Homo sapiens: one gene and its partners. The protein of the gene in region 2 purifies or fractionates together with the protein of the main gene of each other region. This does not show direct contact. Each region holds a gene or a part of one and is shown on either strand. Other genes may lie near its edges. The genes, in order: ELAVL2, KSR2, JAKMIP1, MKI67, PRKAG1, CDC42BPB and SLX9.

Region 1 (3,500 bases), on a different chromosome or scaffold from region 2:
CTGTACAACTTCAAATAAATACCAGCCTTACATTTTATTAAGTGCTCTGATAAAACACTGTAAAGTGAAGCACAATTTGCATGCCCTCTCATCAATGCCTTGGTTTGCTACAGTAGTATAGGAAAGAAGCATGTAGCTGCTGTTTTCCCTTGAGGGAAACCTTATTATTTTTTTTTAAGTATATACATGTATTTTATTTTTTAGTGTTTTTCTTTTTTTAAACGCAGAAGGTTAACTCTGGCAATCTAAATGCACCTAAGGATATGAGAAAGTGCTAAGCCAATTGATTTCTGAATAGCATTGAGTGGGTCAGCATGAAAACTCGCTTATTCACTTTAGCACGCGCCTCACAGTATATGTACTGTACTATACTGAAAAATTTTATAACTACAATTTTAAATAATAAAAAATAAAACTCAAAGCAACCGCAAAGATAATGTACAACTATGTTATGCATAGCACATTGCCTGTTCTAAGGGGAAGCATGTGAGCATCTCAGTTTATACAAAAAGCAGGACGTAACTATATAGTTCTCAGTGCATCCTGATGAAGGCATTTTTGCCTTCAGCTTTTTTGAAAATTTATTATAAGCTAGATGCTAATCAGAAAATATTTTGTATTTTTTAAAATTTCTTTCATACATGGTAAAGACTTATTTTATTATTTCCCCAAATAGTGGTTTTTAAGCATCATACAAAGTTAAATTTCAATAGCATACAGATATTTATGATTTTTGTATGAAAAATGTAAGGAAATTTGTTCAAAACCTATGGTTATACTCATTTTTTTATACCACAAACATATTTATAAACCAAAATGTAGCATCACCATAAACAGCTGAAGCTAGACTATCTACAGACAAAATTTGCAACAAATCTGATGCACTGTAAATTCAAGTCCTCAGGACAACAAAAGTGATTAAGCAAGACCTCAAGTAACAATGTTAATGCCATTTACAAAGGAAAAAACTGATACAAAAACATTCAAAACCTGAACATCACTTGGCATGTAAGGGAAAAAAAATTAAATTAGCTGAAAGGTTCATAAACACAAGGTCTTATTTACATTACACAAAGCTCAGGTGTTAGCCTTGAACGTAACTTTCAAAATACCTTCAAATATATCCAACTCAGATCACTTTTGCTGATTTGCTGCAGTACAAATCATGTGCAACGTCTTTTTTCCTTAAGACAAAACAATTCTTCAAACAATACTGCAAGTACATCACTAAACACCATGAGCTCTATCTGAAGGGATTTCTTTAGGAAGAACAGATTTTTTCCCCCATCTCTCGGTAATTTAAATTTCTTGCCTGCTCTTATATATTCTTTTGTAAATTTTTTTTATTTGTTTCAAAATCACAAATCAATGTGAGCCACCTATCACATAATAACCAGGATGATCAGACGCTCCACTGGTGATTACAAAAATGAAACCAGCAGTGTTTCCCCCCATTGATTCTACTCCTTTCATACAAAGATCTCAAAAGTATTTTCTACACCATAAATCTTTCTAAATTTTCCAACCGCTGCAAATTTCCTGGTAAATTTTAAAAGCTCACTAGGTGTCATATGAAGAGATTTCTCAAAGTATTCAAGTCAAAATATTTGTTCCAGGACCAGTAAAAAGTTTCTCCAAATTTTCTTTTTTATAAAAATAGATGCTTTTTTTAAACCCACATCAAAGAGGCTCTTATCTCTTTGGCAAGGTACTGCTTTACGAAAAGTTCTCCAGTATTCTTACAATAAGCGTTTATAATGTAGCCCCCCCTTCCCCAACCCAAATCATAATTACAAAATAAATACTGTTTTAAACTTCATAAATAAAAATGTAAACTTCAAAATACTTTTCTTAAACAGACATAACAGCAATGCTTTAAATGTAAACCAAACACAAAGCTAATCAGAAAAAGGAAAAAAAGGGGGGAAAAAAAAGACACAACCAACTGAAGAATTACAACACAAAGCCTCAATATTTACTCACAGGTTCAAGGCAGTTATGTAAAAAGAAAAGAAATGTCTTCCCTTAGCTGAAACACTTTAAAAGGTCCACCTTCTTCAAAGAAGGCAATAGAATGCAATGTGACAGGTAAAAACCCTGTACCTCTTGTCCATATTCAAACATAAAAGATATTTAAGAAGTTTTAATTCAAATACTAGCAATAAAAAATCTCACATATTTCTTAGGATGCTAAGTAGTCATTTTATCCCCATCTCAACACTGACTTACAAAGACATTTACTAATGTATAAAGTTTCTCTTAACTTGCCTTTGTTGTATAGTTTTCATATATAAATGGACTGAGGACAAGAGCTCATTAGGCTTTGTGCGTTTTGTTTGTCTTAAAGGAGACCTGCAGTACTCTGTCTCCCAGACGGTATCCATTGAGGCTAGCTATCGCCATGGCAGCCTCATCATAGTTTGTCATAGTCACAAATCCAAAACCTTTGCATTTATTGGTGTTAAAGTCACGGATGACCTTCACATTGGTGACAGCTCCAAAAGGCCCAAACATTTGCCACAGGATACTCTCATCTGCGTCAGGAGCCAGGTTGTACACAAATATACACCACCCTGTTCCAGGGTGCCCAGGGATATTAATTCCAGCCAAACTGGTCATTCCGTCAATGGTCATTGGAGAAAACCTGCTAAACAGAATAGGAAATACACACATACACACAAAAAATAAAAACAGAGGTTGGTTATAGCAATGAACGTATACCTTTTCCATCCCCAAGAATTTTAGTAACTCTCCTCCCCCAACAAATATATAAACTATTTCATGTTTTGACCAAGGTCTGTGTGTGGCTTTGCAGTGACATGCTAGACTACTGAGATATTAATAAGTTATGAAATGACCATTATTCACTGTACTGAATATCATCCACAATAGCAAAGAAATATATTTAGAACTGGCTTCATGAATTAAGCAGGATTGGCAGGGGAAGGGATCAACACATACGTAAACATGCTGTAACGTCGTAACGCAATACGAAACAAATGATGGGTTTTTAAAAGACCAGGTGGCATCCGGTGGTATAAAAATTTCTTGAGTCAATTGTGCTTCAAAGAGCAGCTTTTCATTAGGTTGCACATGCAAAATAAAACCCAACAAAAACTTATGAGGGGTGTGAATAGCACTCCCAAAATCAAAGAAACCAATCAACTGTGGAAAGGGATTATGAGTATCATGAACCTCTATCATTACCTCTTTACTCCATAAGCCATATTGAGCAGATTGTCCAACCTGCAAAACACACATTTAGCAAACTTCAGTTTTTAATTTTTCCCCTTGATGTTCAAGAAAGTTGGGCTCATTACTGCCATCTTCCGAGGGGATATCTGTACACTGATTATATGTGAAGACTCAGAATGCTGGGTCTTTTTACGTTTTTAAGCTAATGGGCACCGACTGCCACAGGACAGTTCTTCCAATGAATGGTTTCTCTCTACAAGGGTCAGTACATGGGACACAGTGACGGTCATCTGAGGATACCTTTC
Region 2 (3,500 bases):
ATAAAATTTACCATCTTAACCATTTTGAAGTGTACAGTTCAATGGTACTAATTACATTTGCATTGTTGTACAACCATCACCACCATCCATCTCCAGAATGTTTTCATCATCCCAAATGCAAAGTCTATATCCAATAAATAACAACTCCCCATTCTCCCTCCCCTCAGCCCTGGCATCCACCGTTCTACTTTCTGCCTCTATAAATTGTCTACTCTAGGTATCTCATATTGGTGGAATTATACAGTATTTGTCATTATGTGTCTGGCATATTTTACTCTTAGCATGCTGTCTTCAAGGTTCACTCATGTTGTAGCATATATCAGAAGTTCCTCCCAGGTCGGGCATGATGGCTCATGCCTGTAATCCCAGCACTTTGGGAGGCCAAGGCGGGCAGATCATTTGAGGTCAGAAGTTCAAGACCAGTCTGGTCAACATGGTGAAACCCTATCTCTACAAAAACTACAAAAAATTAGCCAGGCGTGGTGGCACAGGCCTGTAGTCCCAGCTACTTGGGAGGCTGAGGCAGGAGAATCACTTGAACCTGGGAGGCAGAGGTTGCAGTGAGCTGACATCCCACCACTGCTCCAGCCTGGGCAACAGAGCTAGACTCCGTCTCAAAAAAAAAGAAGTTTCTTCCTTTTTAAGCCTGAATAATATTGCATTGTATAGATAGACCACACTGTGTTTACTCATTTGTCTACTGATGGACACAGGTTGTTTCTACTTTTTGGCTACTGTGAATAGCACAGCAACCTGCCTAATCCTCGAGTCTCACCCTACATCACACACCTGCTCTCTCCCCCAAAGGGGTCCTCTGTCAATTTCCCCAACGTGTCCTGCTTCCTACCACCTTCAACTGAGATGAGCCGTGGATATAAAATACACATTCAATTTCAAAGACTTTGTATTTTAAAAAATGCAAAATATCTCTGTAATGATATTTTACATTGATTCTTTGTTAAGATATTATAATTTTGATATATTGGGTTGAATGATGTATTATGATCATTAATATCACTTGTTCCTTTTCATTCTTTTTAATGTGACTACTAGAAAGTTGAAGGTTAATATATGCCTCATATCCTATTTCTAGGAGCGGCACTAGGCTAGACTCTGCAGGGGTTGGCAAACGTTTTCAGTAAAAAGCCAGATGGTAAATACTTTCAGCTTTGTGGGCTATTCTCACTCTGCCATTGTCACACAAAAGCAGCCATAGGCAACACATAAAGGAATGATCATGGGCGTGTTCCAATACCTTTTATTTACAAAATCAGGCCGGGTATCAGATTTAGCCCCTAGGCCATAGGATATTAATCGTATTTTTTAAACGGCCAATTCTGGGAAATTCTGTTCTATTCATTTGCTCAGAACCCTCTGTGAAAAGCCATTTTTCATTCAACCAGAGTCTGGAACGCAAGTCTGTTCCCGGTTTCCTTGACCTGGGCAGTTCCTGGGACCAAGGGGCAGCCCCTCGCAGGCCGGGTTTCGACCGCCCCAGGGCACCCACCGATCGCACTCACTTGGGCGTGTGGGCCTCGTCCACGCGGTGCCCCAGCTGGAACTCGTGGGATTTGCTCCGATGCAGCGCGGTGAATCCCGGGATCAAGTGTATCAGTTTTCGGGAGGAGGGCGGTGGGGTCCCCGGGGGCTTCAGCTTGTTCTTCTTCCTCATGGGCGGCGTGCCCGGCGGGGTCACGGTGGTGACGATGTTGGGGGTGCGCGGCGGGGTGCGGACCGCGTGCCGCTGCCGGGGCGATGGGGGCAGGGAACGGTGGCCCGACTCCAGTGGCGGGGGCGGGCACAAGCCCGGGTAGGCGTCCACGGTAAGCCTGTCCACGTGGGTGTACACAGGGGCCCCGGGAGTGGGGCTGGTGTGACAATAGTGCTGGACGCACTTGGACGGGACCCTGGGGCTCTGGGAGAGATGGGTGCGGATCCACGGGGTGGGCTCCGGGGGGCACACGGGATTGTTCTCCTTCCCCGTCTCTGTCGTGGGCCACTGGATGGTCCAGTCTTGTTTGGAAAGGTTGCCTCCTGAGTTGGAACAGAAGAGCAGAGACAATGGGTAAGCCATGAGAAAGCCAGGTGAGTTACACCATACACACCATTACATCATACACACATTACACCACGTGCCCATTACATCATGTGCATGTTACACTATATACCTGTTACATCGTATGCATGTTATCTCATATGCAAATTATATCTTATGCACATTATACCATGTGCCCATTACATCATATGCATGTTACACTATATACCTGTTACATCGTATGCATGTTATATCATATGCACATCATATCATATGCATGTTACACTATATATCTGTTATGTTGTATGCATGTTATATGCACATATCATATGCACATTACACCATATGCATGTCACATTATATGTGCATTACATCATATGCATGCTATTTCATATGCCCATTACCTCTTACAGACATTCTATCAAATGCATGTTACATCATACCCACATTACATCATAAGTACATTTACATAAAGCCAACCATCTCTACTTGGCTCCTCCAAAAAGACAATAAAATCCCCTTGTTGACCCTGTTACCCTATTCTCCATTCAACAGCCTTGCCTTCCACTGCCCCATAGCTGGGAAGACCCCACAGCCCAAATGCTCAGAAAAGCAAAGAAGTTAATTCTCACTTTTTGAACTTCCCAAGGTCCCAGTTCTGGTAGTTTCAAAGTGATTTAAAGGACTTTAAAGGATAACTTTTCCCTTACATGGAAATTTTAATACCTAACCCTCATGTGAGATACACAAATTCCAAGGAAGTCAAGTTCATCCTTAGTCCCTCCCTGACCACTTCCTCAGCCACCGCATACTTCCTCCAGATCTGTGTCGCCATGTTCTTATTCATGCATTTGTCCAGTAAACATCCTGTGAGTGCCAACTATGCCCTTTGCTTGGAAAAGACACAAAAGCAACACAGATGAGACCCTGGTCCCCTGGACTTACATTCTGCCAAAGCAGCCATGATAGACAAGAAAACATGCTCACAGAAGGATTTCACATGGTTATTGGTGCTGGGAGGGAAATAAACAGAATGACGTGATAAAAAGAATATGGGCAGCTGGGCACGGAGGCTCACACCTGTAGTTCCAGCAATTGGGAGGCCGAGATGGGCAGATTACTTGAGGTCACGAGTTTGAGACCAGCCTGGCCAACATGGTGAAACTCCATCTCTACTAAAAATACAAAAAAATTAGCTAGGTGTGGTGGCGTGTGCCTGTAATCCCAGCTACTCAGAAGGCTGAGGCAATAAGAATCGCTTGAACCCAGGAGGCAGAGGTTGCAGTGAGCTGAGATCGCACCATTGCACTCCAGCCTGGGCAACAAGAGTGAAACTCAGTCTCAAAAAAAAAAAAACCTTTTTTTTATTTTATTATTATTATACTTTAAGTTTTAGGGTACATGTGCACAATGTGCAGGTTAGTTACATATGCATACATGTGCCATGTTGGTGTGCTGCACTCAT
Region 3 (3,500 bases), on a different chromosome or scaffold from region 2:
ATCTATCAATATCATGATAACCACAGGCACAGCCAACACATGTGAAGGGGCCACCTTCCCCATCCGCATTTTATAGACAAAGAACCTGAGCCCAAAGAGAGGAGGCAATGGGCCCAACTTCACAAAGAAAGTGCCAAGAATGCTTTGCACTTTTGCAAAGATTGGTGGTTTGAGTTCACCAAGATTCAAACACAAGGGACTGACTCTAGACCCCTGCGTTTACTCCCCAGGCTGTAAATGTTAAGGTAAAATATTCTGATGGTATAGGTTGAAATATAAAATGTACCATGTGACCCATGCATTCTACTTCTAGAAACCTACCGCCCCCCCAAAAAAATGCCATGTAGAAGATACATACGTGTCTTTACTGACTTGAACCTTTATGTAAAGTCAGTAAAGACCCATATGTATCTTCTTCATGGCATTTTTTTTTTTCGAGACAGAAGGTAGGTAAAATGACATGTGTCACTTTGACAAAGGGTCTCACTTCGTCACCCAGGCTTGAGTGCCGTGGCGTGATTTCAGCTCACTGCAGCCTTGACGTCCTGGCCTCAAGTGATCTCCCACCTCAGCCTCCCAAGTAGCTGGAACTACAGGTGTGCACCACTGCACCCAGCTAATTTTTTTGTATTTTTAGAGATGGGGTTTTGCCATGCTGCCCAAGCTGGGCTGGAACTCCTGAGCTCAAGGAATCTTCCCACGTTGGCTTCCCAAAGTGCTGAGATTACAGGCATGTGGCACCTCACAGAAATCCAGAAAGCGGCAACAGCCTAAAGATCCACCACTGGGAAGAGAGGTGAACAGACCATGGTATATCCACACAATGGACTACCAAGCCGCTGGTAAAAAGACAAAGACAGATCTCTAAGCACTGATGGGGAGTGATGTAATTGATCAATGAGGTGAAAAAAGCAAGTTGCAGAACAATACACAGCAGGGAAAAAAATCCCAATTCATATCCATAAAATAAAACAAAGTCTCTCGGTGAGTTTTAAGGTATTTATTTAAACATTAAGAACATTTAAGAACCACTCCAAACTAGCAGTAGTTACCTCATGATTTTAAGATTGAGGCCAGGCGCGGTGGCTCACGCCTGTAATCCCAGCACTTTGGGAAGCTGAGGCAGGCAGATCACTTGAGGTCAGGAGTTCAAGACCAGCCTGGCCAACATGGTGAAACCCCATCTCTACTAAAAATACAAAAATTAGCCGGGTGTGTTGGCGGGTGCCTGTAATCCTAGCTACTTGGGAGGCTGAGGCAGGAGAATCACTTGAACCCGGGAGGCAGAGGTTGCAGTGAGCTGAGATCACATCACCTCACTCAAACCTGGGCGACAGAGCAAGACTCCACCTCAAAAAAAAAAAAAAAAGATTGAAGCGTTGGCAAACTTATTAGTTTCTACTTTTAACTACTTCAGTCTGATCTGACATGTTTCCAGAAGCCTGTGTTTTTTCCTAATCCACTCAGTAAACTATGCAGCTCATGAGTATTTATGAGCTTATAAATATTTAAATGAAGAGTAGAGACATAATATTAGATGTACAGTCTGATTAAAGCCAAAAAAAAAAAAACATTTAAAAATACTGGAAGGAAGTAAATTTATTTTGATCCTATTAAAGTTGTGAAGAGGTGATACTTACGGACACTTTTCACCACTCATTTTTTTCAAATATTCTGTGGATATACTTCTCTTCATAATAAAAATTAGAATAAACATAAAAATTATGAGGCATCTGTCAAGAAGTTGATGTATCAACTGCCATTACATAAAAATTAGTTTTGCTGTTATCCAGAAAATGTAAACATATTCATGAAATTTCTATTTTTACTGGAGATTTCTTTTTTAACCAGAAGTCCATGTTCATTATTTTTAAAATTAATGTATAAGTTTTAGTTTACAAGTATATAAAATTTTATGCAAAAAAGTAAATACATAAGCACAAATTAAAATTACCCATAATTACACCACCTAAAAGAATAACTTCTAGCCAGATGTGGTGGCTCTTGTGTGTAATCCCAGCACTTTGGGAGGCTGAGGCGGGCAGATCACCTGAGGTCAGGAGTTCAAGACCAGCCTGGCCAACATGGAGAAACCCTGCCTCTACTAAATGTACAAAATTAGCCGGGCATGGTGGCACATGCCTGTAATCCCAGCTACTCGGGAGGCTGAGGCAGGAGAATCGCTTGAACCCGGGAGGTGAAGGTTACGGTGAGCCAAGATGGTGCCAATTGCACTCCAGCCTGGGCGACAAGAGTGAAACTTTATCTCAAAAAAAAAAAAAAAAAGAATAATTTCTAATATTCAAGATGATGACAATGTATTATTGTTCTGTAAAATGCATTTTTCATTTAATTTACTATGAACACGTTTCCATTTCAATTAAAGAGGGTCTCCATCATCAATCTTAATGACAGTCTAGAATTCATTGTATAAATATTCCATAATCACTCTGCCCTACGCTTTAGTATTGAACAATTGGGTTTTTTGGTTTTTTAATTGTTGATTTTTTTCGGTTTCGGTTGTTAACATAAACAACACTGCAATGAACATCCTCTCCATGCTTCTCATGGAAGTTCTCCAGTTGTTTGCTAAAGATAAGTTCCTACAAAAACAAATGGCAGTAAGAGATTTCTTCAATGAGCATGTGTTAGATTTTTAATCGAAAAGAAGTAAGAAGGAAAGTTCAGAGAACCAGAAGGCTTCTGCATTAACTTTCTGTGCAGGGCATGTTTCAGGGACTCAGGGCCCCTTCCTTGCACCCTATGAGGCACCGCCTGTCTCTTGGGGCTACTTACCAGTTCATTCCTCTCATCTGCCAACAGCGTATTTCTGTCTTCCAGCTTCCGTATCACTGAATTCAGTTCAGCAATTTTTAGTTGAAATCGCCTCACATCTCGCTCGTCCATATGTTGATCCTAAAAAAAAAAAAAAAAAAAAAAAAAAAGTCAAGACGTAAATGTACTTTGAAGAAGTTGTGTGGAGCCTTCTTAGAAAATTCACATGACATAATGGGTGAGATCCTTATTCAGGGGCCCACATGCCACACAGCAAGGTGGGGAACACCCAAGCCCACTGCACACCTGCGGAAGACTCCATCTAGACGGCCACTGAGACTTCAAACCCTTCCGTGGCTCCCTGGGGCCCTTGTGGTCAGGCCCCTCCCACCCCGTATCTCTTACAAAGGCCGCCACGCACCGGCACCTCACACAGCGTCCAGCACAAAGAACTTATAACATCCCCTCCAATACTGAGTGAATGAATGAATGAGTGAATACATGCCACCTCAGAGTCCTCTGTGGCTGACCAGAAAAATGCCACCTAAATGGGTGGGGGACCAGCCTGAGGCTGGCACAAGCTGCTGCCCCTCACCTGGACGCCCATGAGCTCCACCATGTCCCCGATCCCGGGCGGGAGCTCTCTCTTTGGACTACTGTGGTGCCGCTCGGCCTCCTTGACCTGAACCAGCTGCTCATCCAAAGCCTCTTTCTGCAGAAGCAGC
Region 4 (3,500 bases), on a different chromosome or scaffold from region 2:
CTGAAATAAAAACATACACAATAAAAACATTCTATTAGTGTCTCATGTCAATCGAGTATTACAGCCTCATAAAATATGGTAAAAAACTAAATATTTAGCTTCGTATTCACTGAACGACATGAGGCTACTTATGTGTCTATAAATCTGTCTTATAAGAGCCATGCACAATTAAGAATAATGTTATTTGGTGCTATAGTGGGGTCATCATTAAGCAAAGTTAGATGCTGAAATGATCATAGAAGGTAAAAATACTGCTTCAGAAGGTTCCTCCAAAGGTTGCCATGCCCTGTGTCATTGACGTAAATATAGGCATTTTTTCCTTCAAACATTAGAAACAAACAGCTGTTTCTTGCCTTAAATCGCCAATAAAATAACATGGATTATCCTTATGTGGTTAGGGTCCATATTACACAGGAAATATTTACCTACCGCAAACATCTTCAGGGTAGCAAGCTGTTCCCTCTGTGACAGGAATACAGTGACCAGTGCCAAATGAGAGATTAGACAGATTCTCATCTCCCATCTCACACTTACCCCGGGCCTGCTCCCACCTAAAAGGTTAGCAGGAATAATTGCACAGTATACAAACTGTTATCTTTCTGTTTTGTAATTGGCAGTAATTTTGAATATGAGTAATTTATATGTAAATATGGTGAGACACCATTGTATTTTTTTGCTATGTCACCCTGGTTACTTACAATAAAGAAGCCAAAAGTGTACACAGGTCATTTACACACATTAACGGAGTCTTTCTTTCTATATAAGTCAATGAATGCCAATGTTAGTTCAACTGCTGATTGAAATCTCCCTTTCAATTAGAACAGAGAAGACGGAAATGGTATTTTGTGCCAGGAACATTTGTTTTAGAGAAGTAATATCATACTGCTTGTAAAAAAATAATACTGTATGTTCCTATCCCAAAACATCACAGTGTTAGGAAACAAGGAAACCAACCAAAACTCTCTGAGGTGGGGAGCAGAGGTTCTTCTCCTGAATCAGTTCCTTGAAACTGTTTTCCAAGCAAATTCTCTGAATTTGAAATAGCGATGTGACATGTGCTTGTCAACTGCGGTTGCTCCTTCACTGGGGTCTTGAACATTTCAGCTATTCCTGTTAAATGAAAATATTTGAAAAGTGATTGACATATTGCTAACATGCAGACAACCATCCCAGCCCTCACATGTAACGTGCAAATGGTGGGAAATAACAGTAGATTCCTCCCTTGAAATCCTGGTACATAGGCCTCATAAAAAGAGTGATTCCATTAATAATGTACTCATTTTGTAAAAAAGAGAGCACAGAGAAGATATGTTATGCTCTTCGCTTTGCTTTTCTTGGAAAGGAAACAAATGAAGTTAGCTGACCTCTGGGTCCTCCTAACAAGACCCCACACGTGAGCTCTGGAGCACGGAGGCTGGTGACGGGCTCCTGAGACCCATAGGCCTCCCTGCTAGGATCTAGAGGCCAAATGCCTTCATGCTTCTCAAAGTCTTGGGTGCTCAGTTCTAGATTTTAAGTACAAATAACACGTACCCACATTTTAGAAAATGACAAAGAGCTGCCCATTTTTAGTACTGTCAAGTAATAATATATATTTTTGAAAATCTAATATCATTATCATTCTGTTTGGAATGATAGGAGGCCTCAGCCTCCCAAAGTGTTGGGATTACAGGCGTGAGCCACTGCGCCGGCCATCCCCACTTTAAATTACACAAGTCAGGCCACAATTTACTGAGAGTGGGAATTGAATGGAAATATTTCTTCAACAATCGTTTATGGGAATCTTCTCATAGGGCTTTCTTTCAAGAAAGTTAAGCTACCTAGAAAGTCAATCCTGAAGAAGCAAAATGTTGCTCAACAACAACTGGCCCACACCTGGGATAAACTATTATTGTACCTGCAGATTAACAAGTTAACTCTCTTCACTGTAAAGCACCTTCCAGCTTTCTATGTATACGCTGCTCTCCAGGGTAAAGACATGCATTTGACATTTCCACACCTATTTCATGCAGGACATGTGATCCCAAAAATTAGCAGAGACTTGTCTTTGCAAGCCAAAACAGCTTTATCTTCCCTGAACACTAAGACCCCAGAAGGGTGATTGAGTCGTTTATTTTATAATCTCTTTCACAGCAGATAAACAAAGTTAGCAAAACAAACATTAACACAGTAAAAAACAGTAGAGTCAAAAGATTTATAAGATCTAAGACTACGTTTTTACCTGAAAGATCTTCCTTAAAGTCCATTTTTTGGTTGGAAATGAAGTTGTTGAGCACTCTGTAGGGTCGAGCAGGCACATGTACTTTTTCAGTATGAGCTTTCCCTATTATTATGGTACAAGGAGAGTTTGCGTGGCCTGTACTAAATTGACTGTGAACTTCGCCCACAGGCTTCTGTAGAAAACAGGAAGGAGGTAAACAGGACATTAAAGCATAAATCCACACTGAATGCAAGCTTCGATGACACCGGTATGTGTAAAGCAGCCATTCAGTGAGGCCCCTACCTTTGGAGTAGCAGGTCTTCTTTGCCTTTTGTTCATTGACCTTTGAGGACCATGTTTTATGACTTTAGTTTGTGTTTGTTTTGCACCAAGTTTTACTACATCTGCCCATGATTTTGCAACTGTCAAAGGGAAAAGACGAAACTTTTCAAAAATTAGCATTCATGAAAAAATTCACCTTAATATATGTATTCTAATGTCAGACTAACCAATCAGATTTGCTTCCGAAGCACCACTTCTTCTTTTGGAACATATCATCTGTAAAATATCATGTTGACTTCGGCTGATAGACACTCTCTTTGAAGGCAGGTTGCCACTCTTTCTCCCTCCTCTCTTAGGAACCTCTGTCTGAGATTTGCTGCTGGAAGCAGGGGCTGTTTTGCAGGACCTACGGCGTTGATCACTGGCAACTGGAGTTTTCCTAGGACTAGGAGCTGGAGGGCTTATAACCAAGCTTTGTGCCTTCACTTCCACATGGATTTCTGAACCTGACTCTTGTTTTCCTGATGGTTGAGGCTGTTCCTGACAAGACAAAATTGTTTACAAGAAGCCTTAACAAGGATCTAACATCTCTGGAATGACTGATAAAAACCTATTCAGTTAAGAATTTCAGCTGTTTAAATCTTGAAGCATCAAATGCTTAAGCCACTGTCTTTGAAGACTATGGTAGAGGTGAGACTGTCTCAGTCATTTAAGGAAAAGGAAAGAGAAGCAAGCCAAGTCTGAAGTGAGGTCATTTCAGGTAAAAAGGTGGAAGGAACATCCTGATCAGTGAAAGACAAGCAGGGTCTGATCTCAGTCCCAGTAAATACCAGCTGTGAGCACCCAGCCCCCGGCAGTCCACATGGAGGGAGGACTGCTTGCCCCTGGGAGCCAGTGTAAAATGGAAAGGGAGCCAGACATCACTTTCCACTCCTGCTGGGAAGAGAAGGAAAGAAAGACCGCCCAGGCCCTATTACAAAGGTTATGAGCTATAGGGCCATGACTTCCCAGAGGTGTG
Region 5 (3,500 bases), about 69 Mb from region 2:
ATTTTGGTCATTGGGTTAAGGTTCCTTACCAAGGCTGATTTATAGTAGCGGTGCAGGATATTGATGAAATCAGTGATGGTCAGCATGCCTAGAGGACAAGACAGAGCCCTCAGCACTGCCTGAAGCTTGTCTCCCTGCCCAGCACAAGATGCCAATAATATTGTGTTCCAGAAACTTTTGCTTACCCACAAAACTTTGCTTCTTACTATCCCATAAAGGGGCAGCTCGTACACCGTTAGTCACCAAAGCAAAAAAAGCTTTCTTCACCTGTAGCCAAGACAGTAATAATCATAAAGGCAAATCCACAGGGGCAGGACTGTAAAAAAAGAACAGTGTTTGGGCATGTTGGGTAAAACATGAGACTAACTTCACAGAAGGATAAGGATATTACCCTTAGGATGAGATAGGATGAGAGGTATTAAACCACAGGCTCCAAAGGGGGAAGGGAAAAGAGGATTTCACCCACCTGCAGGGACGTATCAAATACAACCAATTTGGAGCTTGTGGGAATCAGGTCATAGCAGCGATGAGACTTCATGAAGGAAGTATACACGCTATTGTTGGATTCTGGGGTCTCTGCATAGGGTGGGATAGTTAGTAGCTTCCTTCCACATAAAAACTCCCAATCAAAAGAGACAGAAAACAAAATAGTGTTCTAGTATCTCAAATATTTAGAGCATTATTTTTTAATAAGACCCCTTATTTTATCTGTCTTGTTCCTATTGTTTCCACAAAACCTGGATAAACCTCTTAGAAACCATTTCATCCAACCCCTGTCTCCAGGTTAAGACTTTATCTATTGGTCCCTATAGGTAAAAGAAGTTGACTAAAACATAAAGCCTATAGTATCTCTCTTTAACATGTTATAGTCTAAAAATGTTTCTCATCTTTAATCCAAGCTTTCCCTTTCATATACTTAGCACATTTTCACTTTCCTCTTTTTTCAATGAAGTAAGCTTCTTAAAATTCTTCCAAGACTGTGCTGGGGATGGTGGCAAGCACCTGTAATCCCAGCTACTCAGGAAGTTGAGGCAGAGGATCACTTGAACCCAGGAGCTCGAGGCCAGCCTGGGCAACACAGCGAACCCCTGTCTCAATTAAAAAAAAAATTATTCTAAGACCTGCAAATGGGAAAGTCATGGTCCAAGTTGGGCCATTTCTCATTAACAATAAGTTGGAGCCCAGTGCTCAATCAACCTGGCTCAAAACACCCTGATAGTCCATTCTGGGATCACCCTGTAAATCAGAAATCATCCCACCTACTCTAGACAAATGGGAGATCCTGGCTAGTTTACCTTTTTCTATTCCTGTGATTTTAATTGCTTGCTCTAAACTAGGGAAGTAATCTCCCAAAATAATAGCTTGAATGTGCTACATACTATACTACGTGCACTTAAAAATATTACATTGAGGCTGGGCGTGGTGGCTCATGCCTGTAATCCCAGAACTTTGGGAGGCCAAGGTGGGAGGATCACCTGAGGTCGGGAGTTCAAGACCAGCCTGACCAACATGGATAAACCCTGTCTCTATTAAAAATACAAAATTAGCCGGGCATGGTGGCGCATGCCTGTAATCCCAGCTACTCGGGAGGCTGAGGCAGGAGAATTGCTTGAACCCGGGAGGCAGAGGTTGCGATGAGCCGAGATCGCAACATTGCACTCCAGCCTGGGCAACAAGAGTGAAACTCCGTGTCAAAAAAATAAATAAATAAATAAATAAATTACATTGGCTGGGCGTGGTGGCTCACACCTGTAACCCAGGACTTTGGGAGGCCAAGGTGGGTGGATCACCTGAGGTCAGAAGTTTGAGACCAGCCTGGCCAACATGGCGAAACCCCGTCTCTACTAAAAAAATATAAAAATTAGCCAGGCGTGGTGGCACGTGCCTGTAGTCCCAGCTACTCAGGGGGCTGAGGCAGGAGAATTGCTTGAACCCAGGAGGTGGAGGTTGCAGTGAGACGAGATTGTGCCTCTGCACTCCAGCCTGGGCGACAGAGTGAGACTCCGTCTCAAAAAAAAAAAAAAAAAATTACATAATTTAATCCTTACAACAAATGTGTAAGTAATGTCCTCATGTTTCAGATGAGAAAATAGGTGTAGTTAAATAAACTGCTCAAGGTCACACCATTAATAAGTGGCAAGAAAGACTCAAACAAACCCAGATCTGTTTCCAAACTTCATGCTCTTAAGTCTTTAATCAATTTGGTTTTTAATATTTATTTTTTTAACCAAAGTTATATAGACACACAGTTAAATCAGTCCAACAGTTTTACAAATTTTGTTAAGAAAAAATTGCACTCCTTGCAACCCACCTCCCTGTACTACCCTTCCCCAGAGATGAGAACATCTATCTACCTTAGTTGATTATTTTGGTACTTAATTCTATGTCCTTAAATAACATGCTTGTATTGCTAGTTTCCATTTTTTTTTTCATTTTGGGGCATTATTTATCATCTATCTACCAAAGAAGATGAGAATTTCTAGTTCTCTCTCCTACTAGGACTCCACCACAAACACGTACTTCCCATTCTCCTCATTATTCCAGGAGCTAAACCATAATGTTGGTTATATCCGTATTTCAATCTTTTTTTTTTTTTTTTTTGAGAGGGAGTCTTGCTCTGTCACCCAGGCTGAAGTGCAGTGGCACGATCTCAGGTTACTACAACCTCAGCCTTCCAGGTTCAAGCGATTCTCCTGCCTCAGCCTCGCAAGTAGCTGGGGTTACAGGTGCCCGCCACCATGCCCGGCTAAATTTTGTATTTTAGTAGAGACAGGGTTTCACCACATTGGCCAGGCTGATCTCGAACTCCTGACCTCATGTGATCTGCCCGCTTTGGCCTCCCAAAGTGCTGAGATTACAGGAATGAGCCACTGCACCCGGCCAGTATTTAAATCATTTTGACTGAATATTTATTATTCAGAGATAAGCCAAATAGTAAACTCTGATTTTTTTTTCTTCCTTCACAACTTTGTTTTACCTGGAGTTAATGTCTTGTCCTTTTGTTTAATTTTCTATGTATAATTCTTATAACTAATCCAACCCCCAAATGCTTCACCAACTATTTAAATCTCCTTTTAAGAGGTTCAAAAGCATTAGACAGTCTATCAAAATTTAAACTACCCAAAGAAATCTCCCTGGAGCCTTCTGACCTGCTCAAATCTGGGCTGGTTTGTCTGGTGTGCACTGCTGTCATCCTGGGATCTTTCTTCATCACCATCCTGGGTACCCCTTTCACGTCTGTCCTCTACTGGTGCTCCTATATCGCGTTTTTATCTTTTTTGATTACTCCCTTATTTTGGTGGAACACATCTTCCAGTAGCTTCCTGAGAAAGGGTGCATGGGAGGTATGTGTTTTTGAGACCTTGCAGCCTGTAGATATCTTTATTCTACCCTCATCCTTGGATTTATAATTCGGCTGAATAGAGAATCTGCAGGAAAGCTTGGAATGTGTTTTCCTGCAGAATGTTGAAGGCATTGCTCCATTGCCTGCTAGCTGCTGG
Region 6 (3,500 bases), on a different chromosome or scaffold from region 2:
GCCTGGTTGTTTCGATTGGAAAGCACAGAATAATGTTTTTGAATAAAACTATTTATAGAGCAATATTAGGTACTCTAACTTCCAAGTGGAATTACTTCTGCTCAGGAAACACATATAGGCTGTCCATCAGTGGACTGTTCAGTTTTTGGATTCACCACTCCATGACATTTGAAACCTCTGATATGTCGATTCCTGTCACGTGGAAAAGCCAACCTTTCCCCACTTCCCAAATCTTGCCAGGTATCTAATGACAATTATGGAGAATTCTTGAAACTTAAGGAAGAAAAGTAGCTGATTCAGCCCAGATTTGGAGGCTTAATGGGGAATATGTGAGGAAATTTGGAAAGTATAGGTAGTAAACTTTTTAAGTTTTAAAGGAAGATTATGGCCTGGTGCAGTGGCTCATGCCTGTAATCCCAGCACTTTGGGAGGCCAAGGTGGAGGATTGGTTGAACTCAGGAAGACAAGACCAGCCTGAGCAACCTGACAAAACCCAGTATCTATAATAAATGTCAAAATAAAATTTTATAAAAATATAAAAATTAGCTGGGCATGGTGGCGCACACCTGTAGTCCCAGTTACTCTGGAGGCTGAGGTGGGTGGATCACTTGAGCCTGGGAGGTCAAGGCTGCAATGAGCAATGATCATGCCACTACACTCCAGCCTGGGCAACAGAGTGAGACCCTGTCTCAAAAATAAATAAAATATGATTATTTTTGGCTCATATTTTCTTATTGCCACAGTGGTCGCATGGGACAAGAGTCATTTCAACTTTTTTTTTTTTTTTTGAGACGGAGTCTCACTCTGTCGCCCAGGCTGGAGTGCAGTGGCGGGATCTCGGCTCACTGCAAGCTCTGCCTCCCGGGTTCACGTTGTTCTCCTGCCTCAGCCTCCTGAGTAGCTGGGACTACAGGCGCCCGCCATCACGCCTGGCTAATTTTTTTGTATTTTTAGTAGAGACGGGGTTTCACCGTGTTAGCCAGGATGGTCTCGATCTCCAGACCTCGTGATCTGCCCCCCTTGGCCTCCCAAAGTTCTTGGATTACAGGTGTGAGCCACCGTGCCTGGCCGAGTCATTTCAACTTTCATTGTAGGTTTTTGTCTTTAATTTTCCTATAGCTTGATTGGTTTCCTCTATGAAATCTTGAACCTTAATGCCCAGCTTTGCGTGTGTATTCTTTTCTTTTCTTTTCTTTTTTTTTTGAGACGGAGTCTCACTCTGTTGCCCAGGCTGAAGTGCAGTGGTGCGATCTTGGCTCACTGCAACCTCCGCCTCCCGGGTTCAAGCAATTCTCTGCCTCAGTCTCCCGAGTAGCTGGGATTATAGGTGCCTGCCACCACGCCTGGCTAATTTTTGTATTTTTAGTAAAGACGGGGTTTCACCATCTTGGCCAGGCTGGTCTTAAAGTCCTGACCTCGTGATCCACCCTCCTCGGCCTCTCAAAGTGCTGGGATTACAGGCGTGAGCCACCACGCCTGGCCTTGCATGTATATTTCTTTAAGCTATTTTGAAAATATCTTGATACCATTTGAAGCAGAACATATGAAACACTTTACAGTTTCCAAAAGTAAATAGCAACAAATACGGACAACCCAGTGAGATGAATTTGTTGTCTTTCATCTTTGTCATATACAAATACTGTCTTATGTGTTAAATATTTTTCCCACAGCTTATTTGTAACAGCTAATGTTGCGTTTGGATGGAGCTGATGTTTGAAATCCTAGCCTATGGGCATTGGACAGGCCACAGTGGTCCTCTGCCCTGGCTGCTGTGTGGCCGTCAGACCAGGAGGGAGGCCTCAGGCTTGATGCTGGTGTCACAGAGGCGGACCGTGGGTTTCCAGTCCCCAGTCCGGGCATCTTCTCTCGAGATGTGCTTCCTCTTCATGAATAGAATTAATCCTCCTAGTCTTCTGGGTGGTTCCTCATTTGTGGCTTTTCTCACCATGAGTGTGATAGTATCTTCTCACGGTCCTCCTCCATGGATGTGAATGCCCATAGCTGTTAGTGTGGGAATGGCCAGCCCAAGGTGTGAGTGGGATGATGCCACCGAATTTAATAAGTAAGGCTTAACTGACACGGTGCTAAACATCTCATAATAAAAAGTGCTGGGATTACAGGCGTGAGCCACTGTGCCCGGCTCAAATACATTTTTATCTTAATGATTTCTCTGGATAGAATATTTGCATAACATGGGAACACTTTTTAAAAATAACAGACTTAAGAAATAGATCTTTTGAGTAAGATCTGAATTATAGGGAAATGTTAGGATTGCATGATAAAAATTAGTTTAACCTAATTTAGATCATGTAGATTCTATGGTAGCTGTTTGATACTGACTATAATAGCATGAGATAGGACAGCTGAAACCATTAAACATTAACAACCCAGCCCTACCTTTTCTGTCTTAAAACTTCAGGCCGGGTGTGGTGGCTCACACCTGTAATCCCAGCACTTTGGGAGGCCAAGGTGAGTGGATCAGGAGTTTGAGACCAGCCTGGCCAACAAGGTGAAAACCCGTCTGTACTAAAAATACAAAAATTAGCCGGGTGTGGTGGCACGCATAGTCCCACCTACTTGGGAGGCTGAGGCAGGAGGATCTCATGAACCCAGGAGGCAGAGGTTGCGGTGAGCTGAGATTGCGCCACTGCACACCAGCCTGGGCAACAGAGCAAGACCCTGTCTCCAAAAAAAAAACAAAAAACCTCTTCCTTCCATGACAGTTGGGCTTCACAGTGAGCAGCAGTGTCTCTCTTAAATCTAGACTTCAAAGAAATAAAATTGGATTTGAAGAAATAGTTCTCACTTCAGGATACCACTGTGTGAGCTACCTGAAAAAGTTTAAAATGTGCAGTGAATTGCCCTTCAGGCAAAATACTCAAATGCATGTAAATTACAGAACTCACAACACTGCAGGGTTGACAGAGAGCTCCTCTGCTTGCCTCCGCCCTGCCTCTTGTCGCAAGCCAGGTGCCCTTAGATGTCTCCTGGTTGCGCTGACATTAGTGATACTGGATAAACAGGCAGGCACACAGGACTGTTAATTCCAAACTATATTAAATACAGTGAAACTGTCAAATGCTTTTCTCTGAAAAGAGACAAAGCTTTTTTTTTTTTTTTTTTAGCTGGAAGAGACTAAAAACAATGTTACCATGTAATCTCATCCCAAAACCCATAACATAATACCTATTAGTCCTTGACCACGTTTGTTTTTTTCTTAGATTCTTAGTGTTATGGGATGACGGTATGTTATGGTTACCTTAAATTTGTGTGAGAAGCTCACAGAAAGCCTCTCTTGCTAATGAGAATGGATGAGAGGAAACACCCTCTCCTTAAATCTAAAATCAGAAGTGTTTTGGCAATGTGAACTGCGTGTAGTAATCTCCCGCCCCCCCGCCCCAAATACACTAGCCACTAACTGGGAGATAAAGGTCAAGTTTCAGTTTGATTTTAAACAATCTGTGTTGGGGGTTAGGTTTTTGGTTAGTTTTATTGATTGG
Region 7 (3,500 bases), on a different chromosome or scaffold from region 2:
ATCTGCTTTGCTAAGATGGTAATTCTGAACTGATCTATAGATTCAATGAAATCCCAATCATAACCCCACTAGGTTTTTGTTGTTGTTTTTAAAGAAATAGACAAGCTAATGATAATTTATATGGAAATGCCAAGGACTTAGAATATCCAAAACAACCTCAAGACAGACGAACCAACAAAAAGGACTTATGTTATCTGACTTCCAGATTAATCCTAAAGCTATGGTAATCAAGACAGTCTGGTTTTTGCTAAGGTACAACAAATAGATCAATGGAACAGAAGACAGCCTAGAAACAGATCCACACTTATGAGACTTTCTGATTTTTCACAAAGGCAACAAAACAATCCAATAAGGAAAGAAAAGTACTTATAACAAATGGTGCTGGAACAGCTGAATATCCATATTAGGGGGAAAAAAGGAACTTAACCACTAACACCACATAGACAAACAATTCAAGATAGAAAAAAAAAACCAATATGAAAGCTCAAACTATAAAGTTTTTAGAAGAAAACAGGAATAATATCTTCATGACTTGGGATTAGGCAAAGTTTTCTTAAATAGGACACACACACATACATATACACACACACAATAACTAATATAAATTAAACTTCTCAAAATTAAACTCTCGTTTATTTAAAAAAAAAAAAAAAGTTCTCACGCCTGTAATCCGAGCACTTTGGGAGGCCAAGGCGGGCGGATCACGAGGTCAAGAGATCGAGACCATCCTGCTAACACGGTGAAACCCCATCTCTACTAAAAATACAAAAAAATTAGCCGGGCACGGTGGCGGGTGCCTGTAGTCCCGGCTACTCAGAAGGCTGAGGCAGAAGAATCGCTTGAACCCAGGAGGTGTTGCTTGCAGTGAGCCAAGATCGCACCACTGCACTCCAGCCTGGCGACAGAGCAAGACTCTATCTCAAAAAAAAAAAAAAAGAAAGAAAATGAACAGGCAAGTCACAGTCTGGGAAAAACATCTGTAAAACACATATCCAACCAAAGACTGGACTCTAGGACAAAGAACTCTTAGAGCTCAATAATAAAAAGACAAAAAGCCTCATGAAAAATGAATTTCACTGACGCTGAAACACAAATGGACAGTAAGCACATGTAAATGCTCTTTTGGTGGCAACGGAAATGAGTACCACCGTGAGATACCATTTCATGATTACCAGACGGCCGAGGCTGAGGAGACGGCAGGCCATGTGTTGGCAAAGCTGAGGGCCAGGAGAACTCTCACAGGCTCTGGTGGGAGTGTGAGTGTACAACCACTCTAGAAAAGCGTCTGGCAGCTGCTTATAAAACTAAACATACACCTACCCTATGACCCAGCATTCCATTCCTCAGCACTTACCCAAGAGAAACGAAAACATGTCCACAAAAAGACTTGTAAAGAATGTTCAGAGCAGCCTTATTCACAGTAGCTAAAAATGGAAAAAAGCCCAGGTGCCCATCAGCAGGAAAGTGAGTAACAAATGGTGTATTCATACAATGAAATACTTCTCAGCAATCAAAAGGCATGGACTGCTGCTACATGCAGCCTGGATGGGTTTCAAAACCATTACGCTGAGCAAAAGCAGCCAGATGCAGAAAGAGTGCATCCTACATGATTCCATTTATACAGAGTCTAAGGCAAGAAAAGCTCAACTGTGGACGACAAAGGGTGACACAGCAGTTGTTACCTCTGGGGCCAGTGGGAGAGGTAATTGACTGGGGGGGTGCGTGACTGTCGGGGAATGGTGGTGATGGTCCATAACCTGAACAGGATTTCAGCTGCACAGGTGTCTACAACATTTGTCAGCAATCATTGAATGGCACACTTTAGATTTGCATTTCATTTTATGTAAATACAATCTTCAAAAGAAAAAGAAAAAAAAAGAACCATGAACTCTAGCAGAATTATTTGGGGTGGAGTGTACTGATGTCTGCCATTTACTTTGAAACGCATTTTTAAAAACCCATGTTGGTAGATGGACAGAAACTGCTAGATGAACGGTTATGTAATAAAGATTGTAAAATCTGTGTGGTGGGTACAGGGTATTCCCTATAAAATTCTTCCCACTTTCCTAAATAAAATTTTTCATAATAAAATACAAAGTAAAAGTAACTTGGGAAATGTAGCTAAAGCTGTATTTAGAGATAACTTACAGCCTTTCACTCCTGAACAAAACATATACAAACAGATAAGCAGAGTAACTGAAACCCAAAGAAAGCTAAAACGGGAGTGATCAAAATAAAAACAAATAATTTTGAAGACAAAAGAGTAGAATTGGTTATTAAATACATTAATTATTAAATGGAAGAGACAAAACTTCTTAATTTAATCAGAAATGAAGGTGGAGATACAAATAAAGAACGATAAAGAAAACAGAATATTTAATAAGAAGGCAACTAACATATGAAGATTGAGATCTGACTAAATTTGATCATTAACATTATTTAGAGACAAGGACCCACTCTGTCACCCAGGCTGGAGTGCACTAGTGCAATTACGGTTCACTGCAGCCTCAAACTCCTGGGTTGAAGCGATCTTCCTACCTCAGCCTCCTAAGTCGCTAGGACTAGAGGCTCAGAGGCATACACCACCTAATCTGACTAATTTTTACATTTTTTGTAGAGACAAGGTCTCGCTATATTGCCCAGGCTAGTCTGAAACTCCTGGGCGTAGGTGATCCTTCCATCTCAACCTTCCAAAGTGCTGGGATTACAGGCATGAGACACCATCCTCAGACAAATTCGATCATTTTATGAGTGGCCAAAATTGACTCAAGTTGTGAAAAAACAAAAAAAAAGGACCAAGTGCCATGGAATAAAATTTACACATCATCAAAGAATTACAGCCTAGAAAATCAGGGTCCAAATGGCCACAGTCCAGTAGCCCGTCCAAATCCACTTTCACAGCTATGCTAGGAACTGTGAAAAAGAAAATGGAGGAATGAATCATTTCCCTAAGAAATATCCAAAAAGGGATAGAAACCATAAAACTAATAATCACAAAAGAAACTGACAAAGTTTTCTAGGTCCTACCTCTGAAAAACATACATTTTCTTTAAAACCTCCAAGGAAAAAATAAAGCAGATAACATAAAAAAGAAAATATTCCAAATTAATTTCACAAAGTCAGCAGAATCACACTAAAAAGATAACCGAAAAATACAAAATAATTTTGACGAGAAACAATCTTAGAAAAACACTGGCAAATATCCAGCATCACGAAAAATAAGGAGATACTCCAAAACAACCTGAGTGGGAAGTGTGGCTTTCAGCCTGCGGAGACGTGCAGCTGGGAGCACGTGGCAAGGCTGACCTCAGAAAAGAGGGAGCCACAGGCCTGAAAGGGTCTGGGGACACCAGGGGCCCTGCCCACACCCACGCCGCTATGCGCAGACACTGTTTTCACCGCGGGCAAGGCCTGGAAGGATTTCACATACCACTGCAGGCACTTCTGAACCATAAAAACTCCACGAGCACAGGTTACTTCCACAATAAAAAATTTCACGG

The links.
Region 1: the proteins of KSR2 (region 2) and ELAVL2 purify together in Homo sapiens (co-immunoprecipitation; one large-scale study listed by IntAct). This does not show direct contact.
Region 3: the proteins of KSR2 (region 2) and JAKMIP1 purify together in Homo sapiens (co-immunoprecipitation; one large-scale study listed by IntAct). This does not show direct contact.
Region 4: the proteins of KSR2 (region 2) and MKI67 purify together in Homo sapiens (affinity purification with mass spectrometry; one large-scale study listed by BioGRID and IntAct). This does not show direct contact.
Region 5: the proteins of KSR2 (region 2) and PRKAG1 purify together in Homo sapiens (co-immunoprecipitation; one large-scale study listed by IntAct). This does not show direct contact.
Region 6: the proteins of KSR2 (region 2) and CDC42BPB purify together in Homo sapiens (co-immunoprecipitation; one large-scale study listed by IntAct). This does not show direct contact.
Region 7: the proteins of KSR2 (region 2) and SLX9 purify together in Homo sapiens (co-immunoprecipitation; one large-scale study listed by IntAct). This does not show direct contact.

What each region holds. Positions count from the first base shown.
Region 1 is NC_000009.12:23,690,241-23,693,740, forward strand, and holds part of ELAVL2 (ELAV-like protein 2), read right to left. Parts: intron 3,247-3,500; coding exon 3,208-3,246; intron 3,076-3,207; coding exon of another isoform or gene 3,054-3,075; exon of another isoform or gene 2,962-3,053; intron 2,648-2,961; coding exon of another isoform or gene 2,645-2,647; coding exon 2,317-2,644; 3' UTR 1-2,316.
Region 2 is NC_000012.12:117,759,491-117,762,990, forward strand, and holds part of KSR2 (kinase suppressor of Ras 2), read right to left. Parts: intron 2,035-3,500; coding exon 1,521-2,034; intron 1-1,520. UniProt on the Homo sapiens protein: Location-regulated scaffold connecting MEK to RAF. Has very low protein kinase activity and can phosphorylate MAP2K1 at several Ser and Thr residues with very low efficiency (in vitro).
Region 3 is NC_000004.12:6,082,050-6,085,549, forward strand, and holds part of JAKMIP1 (janus kinase and microtubule-interacting protein 1), read right to left. Parts: coding exon 3,371-3,500; intron 2,917-3,370; coding exon 2,797-2,916; intron 1-2,796. UniProt on the Homo sapiens protein: Associates with microtubules and may play a role in the microtubule-dependent transport of the GABA-B receptor. May play a role in JAK1 signaling and regulate microtubule cytoskeleton rearrangements.
Region 4 is NC_000010.11:128,109,424-128,112,923, forward strand, and holds part of MKI67 (proliferation marker protein Ki-67), read right to left. Parts: intron 3,023-3,500; coding exon 2,710-3,022; intron 2,623-2,709; coding exon 2,504-2,622; intron 2,394-2,503; coding exon 2,222-2,393; intron 1,111-2,221; coding exon 955-1,110; exon of another isoform or gene 524-954; coding exon of another isoform or gene 430-523; intron 1-429. UniProt on the Homo sapiens protein: Protein that associates with the surface of mitotic chromosomes and acts both as a chromosome repellent during early mitosis and chromosome attractant during late mitosis.
Region 5 is NC_000012.12:49,005,277-49,008,776, forward strand, and holds part of PRKAG1 (5'-AMP-activated protein kinase subunit gamma-1), read right to left. Parts: intron 3,324-3,500; exon of another isoform or gene 3,150-3,323; intron 577-3,149; coding exon 467-576; intron 317-466; exon of another isoform or gene 268-316; coding exon 186-267; intron 116-185; coding exon of another isoform or gene 89-115; coding exon 30-88; intron 1-29. UniProt on the Homo sapiens protein: AMP/ATP-binding subunit of AMP-activated protein kinase (AMPK), an energy sensor protein kinase that plays a key role in regulating cellular energy metabolism.
Region 6 is NC_000014.9:103,051,050-103,054,549, reverse strand, and holds part of CDC42BPB (serine/threonine-protein kinase MRCK beta), read left to right. Parts: intron 1-3,500. UniProt on the Homo sapiens protein: Serine/threonine-protein kinase which is an important downstream effector of CDC42 and plays a role in the regulation of cytoskeleton reorganization and cell migration. Regulates actin cytoskeletal reorganization via phosphorylation of PPP1R12C and MYL9/MLC2.
Region 7 is NC_000021.9:44,960,529-44,964,028, reverse strand, and holds part of SLX9 (ribosome biogenesis protein SLX9 homolog), read right to left. Parts: intron 1-3,500. UniProt on the Homo sapiens protein: May be involved in ribosome biogenesis.